Homo sapiens: one gene and its partner. The protein of the gene in region 1 purifies or fractionates together with the protein of each later gene. This does not show direct contact. Each region holds a gene or a part of one and is shown on either strand. Other genes may lie near its edges. The genes, in order: OGDH and DLAT.

Evidence for each region.
Region 2: the proteins of OGDH (region 1) and DLAT fractionate together in Homo sapiens (co-fractionation; 2 studies listed by BioGRID). This does not show direct contact.

The regions. Positions count from the first base shown.
Region 1 is NC_000007.14:44,600,319-44,610,787, reverse strand, and holds the start of OGDH (2-oxoglutarate dehydrogenase complex component E1 isoform 1 precursor), read right to left. Parts: upstream 4,162-10,469; 5' UTR 4,135-4,161; intron 1-4,134. UniProt on the Homo sapiens protein: 2-oxoglutarate dehydrogenase (E1o) component of the 2-oxoglutarate dehydrogenase complex (OGDHC). Participates in the first step, rate limiting for the overall conversion of 2-oxoglutarate to succinyl-CoA and CO(2) catalyzed by the whole OGDHC.
Region 2 is NC_000011.10:112,040,814-112,050,598, forward strand, and holds part of DLAT (dihydrolipoyllysine-residue acetyltransferase component of pyruvate dehydrogenase complex, mitochondrial isoform 2 precursor), read left to right. Parts: intron 1-2,652; coding exon 2,653-2,720; intron 2,721-4,324; coding exon 4,325-4,417; intron 4,418-5,049; coding exon 5,050-5,157; intron 5,158-9,785.

The DNA of each region.
Region 1 (10,469 bases):
AAAATACAAAAGAATTAGCCGGGCGTGGTGGCACGCGGCTGTAGTCCCAGCTACTTGGGAGGCTGAGAAAGGCTTGAACCGGGGAGGTGGAGGTTGCAGTGAGCCAAGATTGCACCACTGCACTCCAGCCTGGGCAACAGAGCAAGACTCCGTCTCAAACAAACAAACAAACAAAAAGATGAAAAGGGCTAGGAGCAGTGGCTCACGCCTGTAATCCCAGCACTCTGGGAGGCTGAGGTGGACAGATCGCGAGGTCAGGAGTTCGAGACCAGCCTGACCAACACGGTGAAACCCCGTCTCTACTAAAAATACAAAAATTAGCCAGGTGTGGTGGCAAGCGCCTGTAATCCCAGCTACTCAGGAGGCTGAGGCGGAAGAATCGCTTGAACCTGGGAGGCAGAGGTTGTAGAGATTACGCCACTGCACTCCAGCCTGGGGGACAGAACGAGACTCCATCTCAAAAACAAAACAAACAAACAAACAAAAAAAAAACCAAGATGAAAAGACATGCTGCTGACTAGGAGAAAATATCTGCAAACTACATATCCAACAAAGCAGTGGTATCTAGAATACATTAGGAATTCTCAAAGCTCAACAGTTAACAAAAACCGAACAATCTAATTACGAAATGAACAAAAGATATGAACAGACATTTCACCCGAGAGTATACAGGGGCCAGGCATGGTGGCTCATGCCTGAAATCCTAGCCTTTGGGAGGCTAAGACAGGAGGATCACTTGATCCCAGGAGTTCAAGACCAGCCTGGGCAACATAGCAAGATCCCATCTCTTCCAAAAAAAGAGAGAATAGACAGATGGCAAATAAGCACATGAAAAGATGTTCAACATCATTAGCCATCAGAAAAATGCAAATTACAACCACAAAGAGACATTACTACACATTTATTGGAATGGCTATAATAAAAAAAGTAACATCACCAAATGCTGGCAAGTATGTGGAGAAACAAGACCATACAGTGCCGGTGGGAATGTAAAATAGTACAATCACTCTGGAAAACAGTTTGGCTATTTGTTTAATAACTAAGCACGCACTACGACTTAGTGATTGTATTCCTGGGCATTTATCTTGGAGAAATGTCAATTTATGTTCAAATAAAAATCTGTACATGAAGGTTTGTAGCAGCTTTATTTGTAATAGCCAAAGAATGGAAACAGTAAAGATGTCTTTTAATGGATGAATAAACCAAATGTGGTACATCCATAGCCCAATAGCCCGGCTTCAATAAAAAGGAATGAAGTACCTTTTTTTTTTTTTTTTTGAGACAGGGTCTCACTCTGTCACTCATGCTGGAGTGCAGTGGCGCGATCTCGGCTCACCGCAGCCACCACAGCCTAGGCTCAAGCGATCCTCCCACCTCAGCTTCCTGAGTAGCTGGGATTACAGGAACACACCACTGCGCCTGGCTAATTTTTTTTTTTTTTTTTTTTTGTAGAGACGAGGTCTCACTATGTTCCTCAGACTCGAACTCCTGGGGCTCAAGCGATCTGCCTGCCTCAGCCTCCCAAAGTTGCTAGGATTACAGGCGTAAGCCACTGCGCCTGGCCAAGGAATGAACTACCCATAACACGCAACAACCTGGATGATTCTCCAGGGAATTAAGCTGACTGGAAAAAACCAATCCCAAAAGGCTCTATGAATCCTTTTATTTGGCATTCTTGACATGCCAAAATTAGGGAAATGAAGAACAGATTAGTGGTTACCAGGAGTTGAAGGACTGGGAATGGGAGGAATGTGGGTGTGGCTATAAAAAAGCAATGGAAGGGATCCTTGTGATGACGGGAATATTCTGTATCTTGAATTTTATTAATGTCAATATCTGGCTGTGATATTTACTATAGTTTTGCACAATGTTAGAGAAGTGGGAAAGGAACACAGGATCTCTCTGTACTATTTATTATGACTGCATAGAATAAATTTTTATGTACAATTTCTTAAAATTTTACTGTTTTCAAAATGAATTTCTCAATAATTTGTACAATGATCTCAAAAATTACCTAAAAATCTAAAAAGTAGATGATACTGTAGTTTTTTCTTTCCTTTTTTTTTTGAGATGGAGTCTTGCTCTGTCGCTCAGGCTGTAGTGCCGTGGCGCCATCTCGACTCGCTGCAACCTCTGCCTCCTGCGTTCAAGCGATTCTCCTGCCTCAGCCTCCTGCTGAGGCTGGAGGAGCTCAGCCTGTAGCTGAGACTACAGGCCCACGCCACCATGCCCTGCTAACTTTTGTATTTTTAGTAGAGACAGGGTTTCACCATGTTGGCCAGGCTGGTCTCAAACTCCCAACCTCAGGGGATCCACCCACCTCGGCCTCCCAAAGTGCTAGGATTACAGGCGTGAGCCACTGCGCCCGGCCTTTTTTTTTGAGACAGGATCTCACTGTGTCACCCAGGCTAGAGTGCAGTGGGGCAATAATGGCTCACTGCAGCTTGGACCTCCCTGGCTCATGCCATCCTCCCGCCTCAGCCTCCTGAGTAGTTGCGACTACAAGTATATGTGGTATATGCCACCATATCCGGATAATTTTATTTTTTGTAGACGCCGGGTATCACTTTGGTTGCTCAGGCTGGTCTCCTTGAACTGAGCTCAAGGGATCTTCCTTTCACACTCCCAAAGTGTGGGGATTACAAACGTGAGCCACCACGACTGGCCGAAATTGTGCACGTCAAATGGGTGAATCGTATGGTATGTGAATTTTATCTCAATAAAGATGTTATTTAAAGGGAAAAAGTAACTGAAATGTGAAAAGTGCGCTTAAAAAAAATAATGAGGGGCCGGGCGCAGTGGCTCACGCCTGTAATCCCAGCACTTTGGGGGCCGAGGCGGGCGGATCACCTGAGGTCAGGAGTTCGAGAATAGCCTGGCCAAGGTGGTGAAAACCCGTCTCTACTAAAAATACAAAAATTAGCCGGGCGTGATGGCGCGTGCCTGTAATATCAGCTACTTGGGAGGCTGAGGCAGGAGAATCACTTGAACCCAGGAAGGCAGAGGTTGCAGTGAGCCGAGATCGCGCCACAGCACTCCAGCCTGGGCGACAGAGACTCCATCTCAAACAAGACAACAACAACAAAAAATGAGCATACAGTGATCTTTATTCAACTTCCCAAGATCCAGTCCTCAGCTAATTTACAAAACTACAATAGTGTTACATACTCTCCTAGGTCTACACGGCAAAGTACAGTTTGACTGTTGCAACTAGTGCTGCCTTACAAAAAAAGGCTTTATCCCATGCCACCCATCCTAAACCCAGCTGTTCAGAGCAGTGTACCTGGAAATCAGCCTCAAAGTACGGACTGCAAGACAAGGCACAAGGAAACCCTAACACGAAGTCCTATGTTCTGGGCAAAGGGATGGGGATGGCAGGTGGGACGCACCCAGGTCAGGGCGAGGGCGCGGCAAGTTTTCTATTAAATCTCAGTAGATTACAACTCATATCCAATGTCTGATATATTTTCGAGGGAAAATGGTGCTTGAAAGATGTTTCTACGAGAAATAAGCTTCATCTCGGTCAATCTGTTCGACCCAACTTCTGGCAGCAGGTGTGGGGGCGGCGCCAAGGTCTGCGCGGTAATCCAAACAGGCAGTCCCACCCAGGGCCACCCCAAAGCCAGATGCTCCGACGCAACTCGAGCAGGCCACACTGTCTTTCGGACAAAGCGACGCGGTCCTCACAGGCGGGAAGGAGAGTGCGTCCCGGTCGGGAAGGACGCCGTCGGAGAGCGGCCTAACCACGTGACGCCCGCGGCGACCTTGGGGGTCACCCCTGCGGACGCACCGCCCTCTCCCTCACATCCGCCGCCGCGCCCGCCCCCCGCTCGCCCACCGCCAATGGCGCGTCGCTCCGCGCCCCGCGCGACCTCGGAGCCCGCCCGTACCCGCCAATCTCCGCCCGCCGGGCAGGCCCCGCGGCTCCATTGGCTGCCACGGCCATCCATCAGGTCCCGTCCCTCCTACCACCCTCCGTGAGCCCCACTCCATCCAGCTCCACTCCCCTGTCACCGCGGCGCCCGCAGCACCAAGGGCGCGGCGGCCTCCCCCTTTACCGCGATCTCCAACCCCGGGCCGCCAAGCGCCGCGACACCCGGCACTGGGACGGGCGCGGCGACAGCGCACGGTTACCTGTCTCCGGCTCAGCTCCACCCGAATGAGGCGCCGACACCCCACTCCGGGGCTCCAAACTCTCGGCCCCGCCCCGGCGTATGGCGTCAACACGTAGCCCTCCCCTGGAGAAGAATGCCCTCCCCTCTTACAGAGGACCGATTCGTGACGTCACAGAGCCGCGCCGGGCGTCACAGCGCCGACTGCGCAGTTGCAGAAGCCAGGGCCAGCTGGAGCCCAGCTGTTTGCTCCGCTAGAGAGATGAGGTTGTCTATGGACTTCCAGCGGCTTCTGCTATCATAAATAATTTCTGAAAGTAAGATATCTCTAGCGCCTGGTAGGAACCTATCAAGAGATAGTTGGGTTGATGTGAAACTTAGCGCACAAAAATAAACAATTTGAATAACAGAATCTCCGTTTTTGAGATTGTCCTGGGTCAGGCTTTGTGACAAGCGCTTCACCGGCGCTATTGTGTAACAATCTGTGAGACAGGTGTTCCTATCCCCGGTCTACAAATGACAGTTGGCAGTGCTGGGATCTTGCCCGGGATCTTGCCTGGGTTTTCTTGACTTTAGAGCTACCTATCAAAGATAAAACGTGGCTAATTAACCTGTCACAACCTGTTGATTGTAAGATGTTCCCTATTTTAAAGTATTAAAATTTGGGGAAAGGCCGGGCGCGGTGGCTCACGCCTGTAATCCCAGTACTTTGGGAGGCCGAAGCGGGCGGATCACTTGAGGTCAGGAGTTCGAGACCAGCTTGACCAACATGGGGAAACCCCGTCTCTACTAAAAATACAAAAATTAGCTGGGCGTGGTGGCGATCCCAGCTACTCGGGAGGCTGAGGCAGGAGAGTCGCTAGAACCCGGGAGACGGAGGTTGCGGTGTGCCGAGATCGTGCCATTGCACTCCAGCCTGGGCAACAAGAGCGAAAATCCGTCTCAAAAAACAAACAAAAAAAGGGGGCGTATAAGTGCTTATTATAGAACAAAGTTAGGGTAATGTATGTGACAAGGATCTAGAGACTGGAAGAGGTGAAGAGACCAAGGAACAAACTTCTGTATTCTTTTTTCCTTTTTTTTTTTTAAATAAATTACGGTAAAAATGTATGTACTAAACATTTGCAGCTGGGTGCAGTGGCTCACGCTTGTAATCCCAGCACTTCGGGAGGTGGAGGCGGGAGGATCGCTTGAGCTCAGGAGTTCCAGATCAGCCTGGGGAACAGAGCAAGATCTCATTTCTACTAAAAAATCAAGAAAATTAGCCAGGTGTAGTGGCACTCACCTGTAGTCTCAGCTAATTGGGAGGCTGAGGCAGGAGGATCTCTTGAGCCTGAGAGATTGAGGCTGCAGTGAGCTATGATTGTACCACTGCACTCCAGCCTGGGCCAGAGAGCAAGATACTGTCTTTTTTTTTTTAATGCCATTTTAACCATTTTTAGGTGTATAACTCAGTGGCATTAATTACATTCACAATATTATGCAACCGTCACCACTCAATTTCCAAAACTTTTTCATCACCTGAAACAGCAACTCTGTAACCATTAAGCAATAACTTCCTATTTCCCCTTCTCCTCCTGTCCTTCTCTCCTTTGGTAACCTCTATTATACGGTCTCTATACATTTGATTACTCAATTACTTTATGTGGGTGAAATCATAATGTATATGTCCTTTTGTGTCCACCTTATTTCATTGAGCATGAGGTTGTCAAGGTTTATCTGTGTTGTAGCATGGGTCAGAACTTCATTTCTTTTTTTTTTTTTTGAGACAGGATCTCCCTCGGTTTCAGGCTGGAGGGCAGTGGTGCCATCTCAGCTCACTGCAATCTCTGCCACCCAGGTTCAAGTGATTCTGATGCCTCAGCCTCCCAAGTAGCTGGGACTACTGGCACGCTCCACCATGCCTGGCTAATATTTTTTTCTTTTTCTTTCTTTCTTTTTTTATTTTTGAGATGGTGTTTCGTTCTTGTTGCCCAGGCTGGAGTGCAGTGGTGTCATCTCGGCTCACTGCAACCTCTGCCTTGTAGATTCAAGCAATTCTCCTGCCTCAGCCTCTCAAGTAGCTGGGATTATAAGCGCCCGCCACTACGCCCAGCTTATTTTGTATTTTTAGTAGCGATGGGGTTTCACCATGTTGGCCAGGCTGGTCTTGAACTCTTGACCTCAAGTGATCCACCCACCTCGACCTCCCAAAGTGCTGGGATTACAGGCATGAGCCCCCATGCCTGGCCAGAACTTCATTTCTTTTTATGGCTGAATAATATTCCATTGTATGTATATACCACATTTTGTTTATTTATTCATCTATTGATGGACACTTGGTTATTTCTGCTTTTTTGCTGTTTTGAATAATGTTGCAATGAACATTGGCTTATAAATGTTTGAGCCCATTGTGGTACCAAGCAGTGGGCTCACTGCTAGATGCACATAGAAGCCAATACTATGTCATCACCTTTTGAGAAAAGGCTTTATCGTAAGGTCGACCAGCAGGGAAACCAGAGGCAATACTCAAATTTGTCTCCCCAAGATGGAATCTGGGGGCAGGTTTTATAGGCAGAAGGCAACTATGAGGGAGATGGGAAAATACAACAAGGTGTGATCTGTTTGGGTCATGCAAAGGGGCAATGCTGGATCTTTGGCTTTTAAGTTCATATTGCAGCAAAACAAGGCGCCCCATGCTTCCTAATTTGGTGTCCATTCCTCCATTTGAGTGGTTAAGTCCTGCCTGTGGTTGACTTTTGTGTTCCCACCGACACCAGGGTCAGCTATCAGGCACACTTTGTTCATCTGGGCATACTTAGGTTACGTGACTTGCAGCCTGGGGATCTATTGTAACTGAAAAACAACTCATCATTTTGTTACTGATAAAAGTTGAACCAGGCTGGGCACAATGGCTCACACCTGTAATCCCAGCACTGTGGGAGACTGAGGTGGGTGGATCACCCGAGGTCAGGAGTTCAAGACCAGCCTGGCCAGCAGGGCGAAACCCCCATCTCTACTAAAAATACAAAAAAATTAGCCAGGCTGGTGGTGGGTGCCTGTAATCCCAGCTACTTGGGAGGCTGAGGCAGGAGAATCGTTTGAACTCGGGAGCCGGAGGTTGCAGTGAGCCAAAACCGCTCCTTTGCACTCCAACCTGGGCAAGAAGAACAAAACTCCATCTCAAAAAAAAAAAAAAAAAAAAAAACTGAATCAGATTCAACTGGTCCTGTGGTTACACCTGTTTATAATTCTTTTGCCTGTATACCTGGGAGTGTAATTTCTGAGTTATATGGGAATTCTGTCTAGCTTTTTCAGGAAGTGATAAATTCCCACAGTGACCGCACCTTTTTTGTTTGTTTGTTTTTGAGACAAGGTGTCAGGTTGGAGTGCAGTAGTGTGATCACAGCTCACTGCAGCCTCAACCTCCGGGGCTCAAGTGATCCTCTCAGCTCACGCTCCTGAGTAGCTGGGACAATGGGCATGCACAACCAGGCTAGGCTAATTTTTTCTGTTTTTTGTAGAGACAGGATCTTGCTGTGTTGCCCAGGCTGGTCTCGAAGTCCTGGCCTCAAGCGATCCTGCTGCCTCAGCCTCCCATAGTGTTGAGATTACAGGTCTGTCTCTATTTTTTTTTTTTACTGTCTCTATTTTTAAAAAAATTACTATCGGTCAGTCATGATGCCTCACTCCTGTAATCCCAGCACTTTCAGAGGCCAAAGTAGGAGGATTATCAGCCTGAGCAACATAGTGAGACTTTGTCTCTCCAAAAAAAAAAAATTAGGAGTGGTGACACATGCCTGTAGTCCTACCTATTTGGAACGCTGGGACAGTAGGATTGCTTGAGCCCAGGAGCTTGAGGTTGCAGTGAGCTATGATCATGCCACAGAACTCTAGCCTGGGCACAGAGCAAGACCCTGTTCCCCCACCTCCCCACTCCCCAACCAAAAAAATTTGGTGAGGTGTAGTGGCTTATGCCTGTAATCCCACCACTTTGGGAGGCTGAGTCAGGAGGATTGCTTGAGGCTAGGAGTTCAAGATCAGCTGGGCAACATAGCAAGACCCCATCTCTAAAAAAAATTTATTACAGCCAACTATAATAAATAGGTATGAGGTGGTATCTCATTGTGGTTTAGAAAGTATTATTATTTTTTAGAGGTAGAGTCTCACTCTGCCACCTAGTCTGGAGTGCATGAGCACAATCAGAGATCACTGCAGCCTTGAACTCCTGGGCTGGGACTGCAAGTGTGGGCCACCACGGCTCATTGTGGTTTTGATTTGCATTTCCCTAGTGGCTAATGATGTTGAGCATATTTTCATGTGGTGCTTGTCCATTTGTATATTTTCTTCAGAGAGCTGTCCATTTGAGTCATTTGCCCATTTTTAAATTGGGTTTTCTTGTTGTTATAGGAGTTCTTTATATATTCTGGATATTAAATCTAATCAGATATATGATTTGCAGATATTTTCTCCCATTTTGTAGGTTTTCATTTCTTTTTTTTTGTTTGTTTGCTTGTTTTGAGACAGGGTCTTACTCTGTTCCCTAGGCTGGAGTGCAGTGGTGTGTGATCATGGCTCACCGCAGGCTTGATCTCCTAGGCTCAAGTGATCCTCTTGCCTCAGCCTCCTGAGTAGCTGGAACCATACCACAGGTGCACACCACCACGCCCAGCTAATATTGTTATTTTATATATTTATGTTTTTTTGAGACAGAGTCTCGTTCTGTCACCAGGCTGGAGTGCAGTGGTGCGATCTTGGCTCACTGCAACCTCTGCCTCCTGGGTTAAAGCGATTCTCCTGCCTCAGCCTCCTGAGTAGCTGGGACTACAGGCATGTGCCACCACACCCAGCTAATTTTTGTATTTTTAGTAGAGACGGTGTTTCACCATGTTGGCCAGGATGGTCTCGATCTCTTCACCTCGTGATCCGCCCTCCTCGGCCTCCCAAAGTGTTGGGATTACAGGCGTGAGCCACCGCACCTGGCCAATATTGTTATTTTTTGTAGAGACAGGGTCTTGCTTTGTTGCCCTGGCTGGTCTTGCACTCCTGGCCTCAAGAGATCCTCCCACCTCAGCCTCTCAAATGTGCCAGGCCTCTCTTTATCTCTTGACAATGTCCTTTGATGAACAAAAGTTTTTAATTTTGTTGTTGTTGTTCCTAAGGAGTTTATCTGGGCTGTCTTGGGGGTGGAGAGGACTCTGTACCTAGAGAAGGTATTGGGTTTCTTGTTAACAAAGTGTGGCTCATGCTGGCATGGCAGGACTGGTGGGGCAGAAAGAACTTGATAGTGAAGTGGTGGAATTGATTGCTGACTGGCAGCACTTTCTGACGCAGTCTCCTTCATCTTCCTCATCTGGATGGAATGCGCCTGGCACTCTGTCACCAGGTGGTGATGTCCACCAGGTCAGGGCCCATGTTCCCAGTGCAGGTTTTGGGTGCCACTTGGAGGATAGTGCAGCCAGATGCCCAAACTCTTCACCTGAAGAGGGCGGGTTCTCCAACACCTGCCCACTGGAGACAGTTTCCACTGAAGGCTTCTTCAGCTGAGATACAAAGTGCCAGAGGCTCAAAGATTCGCATGGGGTAGAGGGTTGGTGTGCAGCTTTTGGGGGTGGTCAGGCAACACCCCCACCACCTTGTGTTCTTGATGTGTGCCCCAGGCCTTCCTGGCTTCTCTTAGTGCTAGCCACCACTCACAAAAGGTTGAAAGTTTTTAATTTTGATGTTGCTTATGTCATATCTAAGAATCCATTGCCAAATCTAAGGTTATGAAGATTTACCCTTATGTTTCTTCTATGAGGTAATGATTTTAGCTCATATTTAGATTGTTTACCCATTTTGAGTTAATTTTTATAAGTGACTGTGCAGTAGGGATCTAACTTCATTTTTTTTTTTTCTAAGACAGGGTCTCTCCCTGTCACCCAGGCTGGAGTACAGTGGCATGATCATAACTCACTGCAGCCTTGAACTGGGCTCAGGTGATCCTCCTACCTCAGCCTCCCAAGTAGCTAGTAATACAGATGCATGCCACCACACCTGGCTATTTTATTTTATTCTATATTTTATTATTTTATTTTAAGTTTATTTTGAGACAAGAGTCTCATTATGTTGCCCAGGCTGGTCTCAAACTTCTGGGCTCAAGCAGTCCTCCCGCCTTAGCCTCCCAAAGCACTGGAATTACAGGTGTGAACCACTGCACCCAGACCAACTTCATTCTTTTACACGTAGAACTCCAATTGTTCCAGCACCATTTGTTTAAAAGACTATTCTTTTTCCATTGAATGGACTTGCACCCTTTTTGAAAATCAGTTGACCATAGATGTTGGGTTTACTTCTGTATCATTCCACTTTTAGTATATGTGCTGCTGAAGCAAGCAC
Region 2 (9,785 bases), on another chromosome or scaffold:
AAGAATTTAGACAAGCAAAGAAGGACCATTTATTAGATATTCAGCAATACTCGTTACCTTACTAAAGATATAAGTGGAAAATCCCTTAGGTATGAGCTGAGAGGAGTGTTAAAAAAAAAAAAGAAAGAAAGAAAATCCCACTGTTCTTACTATGCAGGCAGAGTTAGGTGATAAATATCATCGACTGCTATCTACACATCAGACACTTGTTCATCAGATGGATAAGATTTCAGTTTCAGTTGCTTATATGACCAACAATAAAGAATTAAATGAACAGAAAGGGAGTATAGCATAGTAGTTAAGAGTGTGAGCTCTGTAGCTGGAATGCTTGGGTATGAACCTCAGCTCTTTATACTAGCTGTGTGACCTTTTGTGTCACAATTTCTTTGTATATAAAAACATTAGGTTTAATGGTTGTGAGGTTTAAATAAGTTAACCAGTGCCTGTACAGAGAAAGCATATCTAGGTATTAGCTATAATGATAATAATATTTTTGTTATTAAATAAGATGATTTGAGTGCTAAGAAAGAAAGAAACTCAGTGATATACTAGTGAGTGAAAGGGTGAATGGATATATGTGCAGTCATGACTACTTTTAGACAGGTTGGTTGGGAGATCTTTTTGATGAGGTGACATTTGATTTGTTTTGAAAGATAAGAAGGAGGCAGCTTGAGCCAACCATGTGAAGAACTGGGGAAAGATCATTTTGGATAGAGAGACTAGCTGTACACAGTCTGAAATGGGAAAGAGTTTAGCATGTCTGAGGAACATAAAAGAGGCCAGTGTTGGCCAGGCGCAATGGCTCACGCCTGTAATCCCAGCACTTTGGGAGGCCGAGGCAGGTGGATCACAGGTCAGGAGATGGAGACCATCCTGGCTAACACGGTGAAACCTCGTCTCTACTAAAAATACAAAAAAATTAGCTGGGCATGGTGGCAGGCGCCTGTGGTCCCAGCTACTCGGGAGGCTGAGGCAGGAGAATGGCGTGAACCTGGGAGGCCAAACTTGCAGTGAGCCGAGATAGTGCCACTGCACTCCAGCCTGGGCGACAGAGCAAGACTCCGTCTCAAAGAAAAAAAAAAAAGGCCAGTGTTAATGAAGCATAATGAGCAAAGGGTCTAGTAGGAGATGAGATTGGAAAAAAACAGGGATGAGAACATAAATGACCTTATAGATTATGGTAAAGAGTTTGAATTTTATTTAAAGTACTTGAGGAAGCCATTGAGAAATTTAAGCAAAGAAGTGAAATAAAATGATTATGTTTTGAAAAGATCATTTTGGTTGCTCCATGGAAATGGATGAAACGTTTATATAGTTTATGTTTGACAAGATCCCTACTTTTTGTTACCCATAGTCCAGTGTTGTTCCCTTTATACCATATTGCTTTATGATGGCCTGTTGTGCCGCCCAAGAGAGATAGGGAAAAGGGTTTACAAGGTTTCAACTAACTCCTAAGTCAGGAAATTCTTGTGGGTGGCTGAAGCTTAGCATAAGGCAGGTGGTACTATGGATTTCCTCCTCTTGAGGGACTGTGGTGTCTAGATCAGCCTTGGTTGTAAGGGGAGGTTATGGTTTCTGTCTTTTACAAAGGAGAGAAATCTAATAGGGGTACTACCACCTCTGTTCTAGAGCTCCTAGTGAGGATAAATACAATCCTAGCCAACTCAGTTTTCGTAATGAAGGAAAGGAATTGGGAAGAACTACACACAACAAGAGTCCTTTTTAAAGTCTGCCTTGGGGGAAGATGAATCAGTTTGACCAAATTTTTCCTAGAAGTGGGCCAGTGTAAAAGGTATTCTATAATAATAACTAAATTCTGAATCTCCGTAGAATTAAAGGTCAAGATTATCTACTTGGGTCCAAAATTAAACCTAAGAGGCTGTAGGTGGGAGGAGGGAGGAAATTGAATATAAGTAAAATTAAACCTACTGAGAGAACTTTGAAGATCCTTCCTCATGTGTGACATTGCACCTTTTTCCTTCATTTCCTTTAACACGGGCCAGTTTAGAGCCTTGGCTACTGTGAAAAAGCTATGAGTCATAGAGACCACATAAGGAATGAATGATTCTAAAGATAAGATAATTGCAGTAAAGAGTTATTCGTGCTATTTTGGGGTGAAAAAATCGACTTGATTTGTCAAAACAATTATTGTTATACCTGTAAATTCTGTATAAAAGGAATTCTTTATGGTCACATAAATCCAGAACCCAAATGAAATCTATTTCACGGCTTAGGAATGGTTTTTTGGAGCTAACCAGGAGGAGGCAGCTAGTTTCCCTTTTGGAGATATAAACTGTGCTCGGCATTATCCTTATGCCACATTTCCCAATTTAAAAGTAAGGAAGATGAAAAAAATTAAGTACAACTTGGATAAAACTCTAAAAGAGAAATACATAAAGGAATATTTGCAGTAGTTAAAAAGAAAAGACCCACTCCAGATCACACACTGGTACTCTGTGTGGATTAAAATTAATAGTTGACAAAAGCTGGTATTTGTAGGTAGCACCTTAAGGGGTAGGGTTAAGGCTGTGAACCTTTCAGAATGTTTTTGGTAGTAAACCCTTAGGAGCTTGCAGTTTAGGATCACAGCGTTGATCTCCTTGGGGAACCAATGGTATGTCATCATGTATGTGATATTTATGTCTCTTACAGGGACAGGACCAGATGGTAGAATCACCAAGAAGGATATCGACTCTTTTGTGCCTAGTAAAGTTGCTCCTGTGAGTTATGTGTAGCTCTTACTTTTTTTGCAGTTTGTCTCTACAGCCTGTTAGACCATTTCATACATTATTTATGAACGAAATAGCTCAACCAAGATTGTTTTCTTCTAATTTCAGTGGTTTAATAATACAGTCATCCCTCGGTACCCATGAGAGGTTGGTTCCAGGAGCCCCCTTGTATACCAAAATTCGCAAATGCTTAAGTCTCTTATATAAAATAGTGTAGTATTTGTATATAACTTACCCACATCCTCTCAAATACTTTAAATCATCTCTAGATTACTTATAATATTAAATACAAGGTAAATACTATGTAAATAGTTGTTATATTTTATTGCTTAGGAAATAATAATAAGGACAAAAAGTCTGTACTTGTGCAGTTCAGATGCAACCATCTGTTTTTTTCTGGAATATTTTTGATTTGCCTTTGGTTGAATCCAGTGATGCAGAACTTATGGATATGGAGGGCCAAGTGTATTTAGATATTTGTGTGCTATCATTTATATACAAGATCAAAGATGATATACTACATTGACATGTATTCCACATTATGTTTTGAGCTAGTTAATCGGTTTTTGCTTTGAAATAAAAGATTTGTTCTTTTTTTCTTTTTCAAAATATTTTAAAGTACAGTTGAATGAGTTGTTTTTGGTGTTTGGTTTTTTTTGTTTGTTTGTTTTTGAGACAGTCTCACTCTGTCGCCCAGGCTGGAGTGCAGTGGCGCGATCTTGGCTCATTGCAACCTCTGCCTCCTGGATTCAGGCGATTCTCATGCCCCAGCCTCCCAGGTGGCTGGGACTACAGGTGCATGCCATCACACCTGGCTAATTTTCGTATGTTTAGTAGAGACAGGGTTTCGCCATGTTGGCCAGCCTGGTCACGAACTCCTGGCCTCAAGTGAGTCATTGTGAGGCTCAAGTGAGCCTCCCAACCCCCTTTTCTTAACATTGTTTAGGATAATGGATTAGCTTGTTTATACTTATTTATTATTCCTTGCAACTTAAGAATGCTTCCATTGCTTTTCTTGAACATAATTTTGCAAAAACAAAATTATTTTGACACAAACTGGTCATTGAACATACTCTGATACAAAGAAAAATGACACTTAAAACATGACTTCAGAATTCTAAGTAAAAAAATTAAAACTCTTAAAACAAGCAGAAGTCTCTTTTGCTCACTGGGGACAGAAATAGGTATTCTATAAAGCTTAGTTTTTAGACTGGACATGGTGGCTCATGCTTGTAACCCCAGCACTTTGGGAAGCCAAGGTGGGTGGATCACTTGAGCCCAGGCATTTGAGACCAGCCAGGGCAACGTGGCTAATTTCCGTCTCTACTAGAAATCCAAAAAAATTAGCTGGGCATGTTGGCGTGCACCTGTAGTCCCAGCTACTCTAGGGGCTGAGATGGGAGGATTGCTTGAGCCCAGGAGGTTGAGGCTGCAGTGAACCATGATTGAGCCACTGCATTCTAGCCTGGGTGACAGAGCAAGACTCTGTCTCAAAAGACAAAAAAAAAAAACTGCATAGTCACTGGCAGTCTTTCCCAGGTACTTACGCTAAGATTGAATCACAGTTACTAAGAGCTTTTTCTTTCCTCCCATAGGCTCCGGCAGCTGTTGTGCCTCCCACAGGTCCTGGAATGGCACCAGTTCCTACAGGTGTCTTCACAGATATCCCAATCAGCAACATTCGTCGGGTAAGAGAATTACCATCATCTGGAATCAGCTGTTAGGGGCATCTTTAGGTTGTTTAGTTGCTTCCATAGTTTTTAACACATTAACAGAGGCTTTTTAAGTTGGGAATATTGGATGATTACTTTAAGGGAAGTTTTGGCCAACTGAATACTTGAATCACTTTGTTCCTATTAGAAGGGCCAGGCGCAGTAGCTCATGCCTGTAATCCCAGCACTTTGGGAGGCCAAAGCGGGCAGATCACAAGGTCCAGACTTCGAGACCAGCCTGGCCAACATAGTGAAACACCCCGTCTCTACTAAAGATACAAAAATTAGCCGGGCATGGTGGCACATGCCTGTAGTCCCAAGTACTCGGGACGCTGAGGCAGGAGAATTGCTTGAACTTGGGAAATGGAGGTTGTGGTGAGCCGAGATCGCACCACCGCACTCCAGCCTGGGCAACATAGCGAGACTCCATCTCAAAAAAAAAAAAAAATCTAGGAGGTGTTATATTATGGCGGAGTCCTCCATCTTTCAATTATAATAATGCTTGAGGTAAGTATTAGCAGAGAGTAAGGTGAAGAGACAAACAGAGCCCTAAATTAGTTAAGGTCTTAACTCAAGATAATTGATTTTTTAAATCTCTTTGGTTTCAGGTTATTGCACAGCGATTAATGCAATCAAAGCAAACCATACCTCATTATTACCTTTCTATCGATGTAAATATGGGAGAAGTTTTGTTGGTACGGAAAGAACTTAATAAGGTAAAAGTTCTGAAAATTCCAACTTTCTAAGTTATAAAAATTTTGTCTTTCCCCACCAAACATTTATATTTTTGTCCATATATTTTGTTACAATATATCAGTTGGTGGTTACTTTCTTGATCTTGTCCTTTGAAGCACAAGATTTTAAATATTGGTTATGTCCACTTTTATCAATTTTTTTCTTCTGTGCTTTTGGTATTATATCTAAGAAACTATTACCTAGTCTAAGGTCATGAAGATTTATACTTTTGTTTCCTTGTAACAGTTTTATACTTTTAGTTCTTATATTCAGGTCTTTGCTCTATTTTGAGTTAATTTTTTATAGGTGGTGTGAGATAGGAATCCAACCATTGTTTTGCATGTGGACATTTATTCTTTCATCCCAGCACCATCTTTCCCCATCGAATTGTCTTGGTATCCTTGTCAAAATTAATCATATATGTGAGAATTTTATTTCCAGATTTTTTTTTTTTTGTAGATCTTGTTATTTTTTGTTTTGTTTTGTTTTATTATACTTTAAGTTCTGGGATACATGTGCAGAACGTGCAGGTTTGTTACATAGGTATACACGTGCCATGGTGGTTTGCTGCACCCACCAACCCATCATCTACATTAGGTATTTCTCCTAATGCTATCCCTCCCCTTAGCCCCCCACCCCCCTACAGGTCCTGGTGTGTGATGTTTCCCTCCCTGTGTCCATGTGTTCTCATTGTTCAACTCCCACTTACAAGTGAGAACATGCGGTGTTTGGTTTTCTGTTCCTGTGTTAGTTTGCTGAGAATGATGGTTTCCAGCTTCATCCATGTCCCTGCAAAGGACACAAACTCATCCTTTTTTTTATGGCTGCATAGTATTCCATGGTGTGTATGTGCCACATTTTCTTTATCCAGTCTATCATTGATGGGCATTTGGCTTGGTTCCAAGTCTTTGCTATTGGGAACAGTGCTGCAGTAAACATATGTGTGCATGTGTCTTTATAGTAGAATGGTTTATAATCCTTTGGGTCTATACCCAGTAATGGGATTTCTGGGTCAAATGGTATTTCTGGTTCTAGATCCTTGAGGAACCGCCACACTGTCTTCCACAATGGGTTGAACTAATTTACACTCCTACCAACAGTGTAAAAGCGTTCCTATTTCTCCACATTCCAGCATCTGTTGTTTCCTGACTTTTTAGTGATCGCCATTGTAACTGGCGTGAGATGGTAACTCACTGTGGTTTTGATTTGCATTTCTTTAATGACCAGTGATGATGAGCTTTTTTTCATGTTTGTTGGCCACATAAATGTCTTCTTTTGAGAAGTGTCTGTTCATATCCTTTGCCCACTTTTTGATGGGGTCATTTGTTTTTTTCTTGTAAATTTGTTTAAGTTCCTTATAGATTCTGGATATTAGCCCTTTGTTAGATGGATAGATTTCAAAAATTTTCTCCCATTCTGTAGGTTGCCTGTTCACTCTGATGATAGTTTCTTTTGCTGTGCAGAAGCTCTTTAGTTTAATTCGACCCCATTTGTCTATTTTGGCTTTTGTTGCCATTGCTTTTGTTGTTTTAGTCATGAAGTCTTTGCCCATGCCTGTGTCCTGAATGGTATTGCCTAGGTTTTCTTCTAGGGTTTTTATGGTTTTAGGTCTTACGTTTAAGTCTTTAATCCATCTTCAGTTATTTTTTGTATAAGGTGTAAGGAAGGAGTCCAGTTTCAGTTTTCTACATATGGCTAGCCAGTTTTCCCAACATCATTGATTAAATAGGGAATCCTTTCCCCATTGCTTGTTGTTGTCAGGTTTGTCAAAAATCAGATGGTTGTAAATGTGTGGCATTATGTCTGAGGCTTCTGTTCTGTTCCATTGGTCTATATATCTGTTTTGGTACCAGTACCATGCTGTTTTGGTTACTGTAGCCTTATAGTATAGTTTGAAGTCAGGTAGCATGATGCCTCCAGCTTTGTTCTTTTTGCTTAGGATTGTCTTGGCTATACGGGCCCTTTTTTGGTTCCATATGAAATTTAAAGTAGTTTTTTTCTAATTCTGTGAAGAAAGTCAATGGTTGCTTGATGAAGATAGCATTGAATTTATAAATTACTTTGGGCAGTATGTCCATTTTCACGATATTGATTCTTCCTATGCATGAGCATGGAATGCTTTTCCATTTGTTTTTGTGTCCTCTCTTATTTCCTTGAGCAGTGGTTTGTAGTTCTCCTTGAAGAGGTCCTTCACATCCCTTGTAAGTTGTATTCCTAGGTATTCTATTCTTTTTATAGCAATTGTGAATAGGAATTCACTCACAATTTGGCTCTCTGTTTGTCTGTTATTGGCGTGTAGGAATGCTTGTGATTTTTGCACATTGATTTTGTATCCTGAGACTTCACTGAAGTTGCTTATCAGCTTAAGGAGATTTTGGACTGAGATGATGGGGTTTTCTAACTATACAATCATGTCATCTACAAACAGACAATTTGACTTCCTCTTTTTCTATTTGAATACTCTTTATTTCTTTCTCTTGCCTGATTGCCCTGGCCAGAACTTCCAATACTATGCTGAATAGGAGTGGTGAGAGAGAGCATCCTTGTCATGTGCCAATTTTTGAGACTGAGTCTCACTCTGTTGCCCAGACTGGGGTGCAGTGGCGTGATCTTGGCTTACTGCAACCTCCACCTTCCAGGTTCAAGCAATTCTCGTCCCTCAGCCTCCCGAGTAGCTGGGATTACAGGTATGAGCCACCAGGCATGGCTAATTTTTGTATTTTTAGTAGGGACAGGATTTCACCATGTTGGCCAGGCTGGTCTCGAACTCTTGACCTCAAATGATCCACCCACCTTGGCCTCCCAAAGTGCTGGAATTACAGCCATGAGCCCCCATGCCTGGCCTATTTCCAGGTTCTTAATTCCATTCCATTAATCTCTGTATACCCTTAATGTCAGTACCACAGTCTTGATTACTTTAGCTTTGTAATAAGTTGTAAAATCAGGAAACGTGAGTCATCTTTGTTCTTTTTTCTCAAGATTTTTTTTTTTTTTTTTTTTTTTTTTTAAAGACAGAGTCTTGCTCTGTCACCCAGGCTAGAGTGCAGTGGCGTGATCTTGGCTCACTGCCAGCTCTGCCTCCCGGGTTCATGCCATTCTCCTGCCTCAGCCTCCCAAGTAGCTGGGACTACAGACGCCCACCACCATGCCCGGCTAATTTTTTGTATTTTTAGTAGAGACGGGGTTTCACCGTGTTAGCCAGAATCAAGATTGTTTTGTCTGAGTCCCTTGCAATTCTAAGTGAATTTTAGGATTAGCTTGTAAATTTCTGCATTGAAGCCAGTTGACATTTTGATAAGGATTGATTGGATGTATCTGCTGATCAGTTTGGCAAGTGTTGCCATCCGAAGAATATAGTCTTTTCATCCATGAACATGTAGATGCCCCTGTATTAGTTAGGTGTTCTTCAGTCTCTTTCAACAGTTTTTTTATAGTTTTTCAGAGTGTAAGTTTTGCACTCTAAATTTGCATTTGTTAAACTTATTTCTAGGTATTTTATTCTTTTTGATACTACTCTAAGTGGAATTGTTTTCTAGATTTCATTTTCAGATTGTTCATTGCTACTATATAAAGGTATGATTGATTTTTTTTTTTTTTTAAGACTAGTCAGGTATACTAGTGAGAAGGGCGGAAGAGTAGAAAAGAAGTTAGATTTATAATGGACTCTGAGCAATCAATTGAGATAACAATTCATTTTTCTATATTGATCTTTTTTTTCATATACCTGCTGAAATGGGATCTATATTGACCTTGTATCCTGCAAACTTGCTGAAGTCATTTATTAGTTCTTACAGTTTTTTAGTGTATTTCTTAGGTTTTTCTGTAAACAAGATAATGTTATCTGCAAATAGAGATAATTTTACTTTTTTCATTTTGACCTGTATGCCTTTTATTTCCTTTCTTGCCTAATTGCTCTGGCTGGCGCCTCTAGGCAATGTTGAATAGGTGTAGCAGAAGTGAACATCTTGTCTTGTTCTCGATCTTTGGGAGAATAAGTCTTTGGTCATTAAATAGTTGTGAGGTTTCCATAGATCAGGTTGAGCAAGTTCCCTCCTGTTCCCAGTTAGTAAGAGTGTTTTGATCATGAAAAGGGGTATTGAATTTTATCAAATGCTCTTTCTGTGTCTGTTGAGATGATTATGTGTTTTTTGTCCTGTATTCTGTTAGGACATTATTACATTAATGGATTTTCAGATGTTAATGGAAATTTGCATTCTTGGGATAAATCAGATTTGATCATGGTGAATGATCCTTTTTATATATTGCTGGATTTTATTTGCTAGCGTTTTGTTGAAGATTTTTACATCTATATTCATAAGATATTAGTGTGTACTTTTTTTTTTTTTTCTTCTAATGTCGTCTTTGGTTTTGGTATCAGGCTAATCCCGGCCTTACAGAATGTGTGGGGAAGTGTTTCTTGCTCTTCTTTGATTTTTCTTTGAAAGAATTTGTGAGGAATTGATATTAATTCTTCTTTAATATTTGGTAGAATACTGACGAAGCCATTTGGGTCTAAGCTTTTCTACATGGGTAGTTTTTAAATTACCAGTTCAATCTCTTTGTTAGTTATAGGTCTATTCAGAGTTTTTGTTTCTCCTTGGTTCAGTTT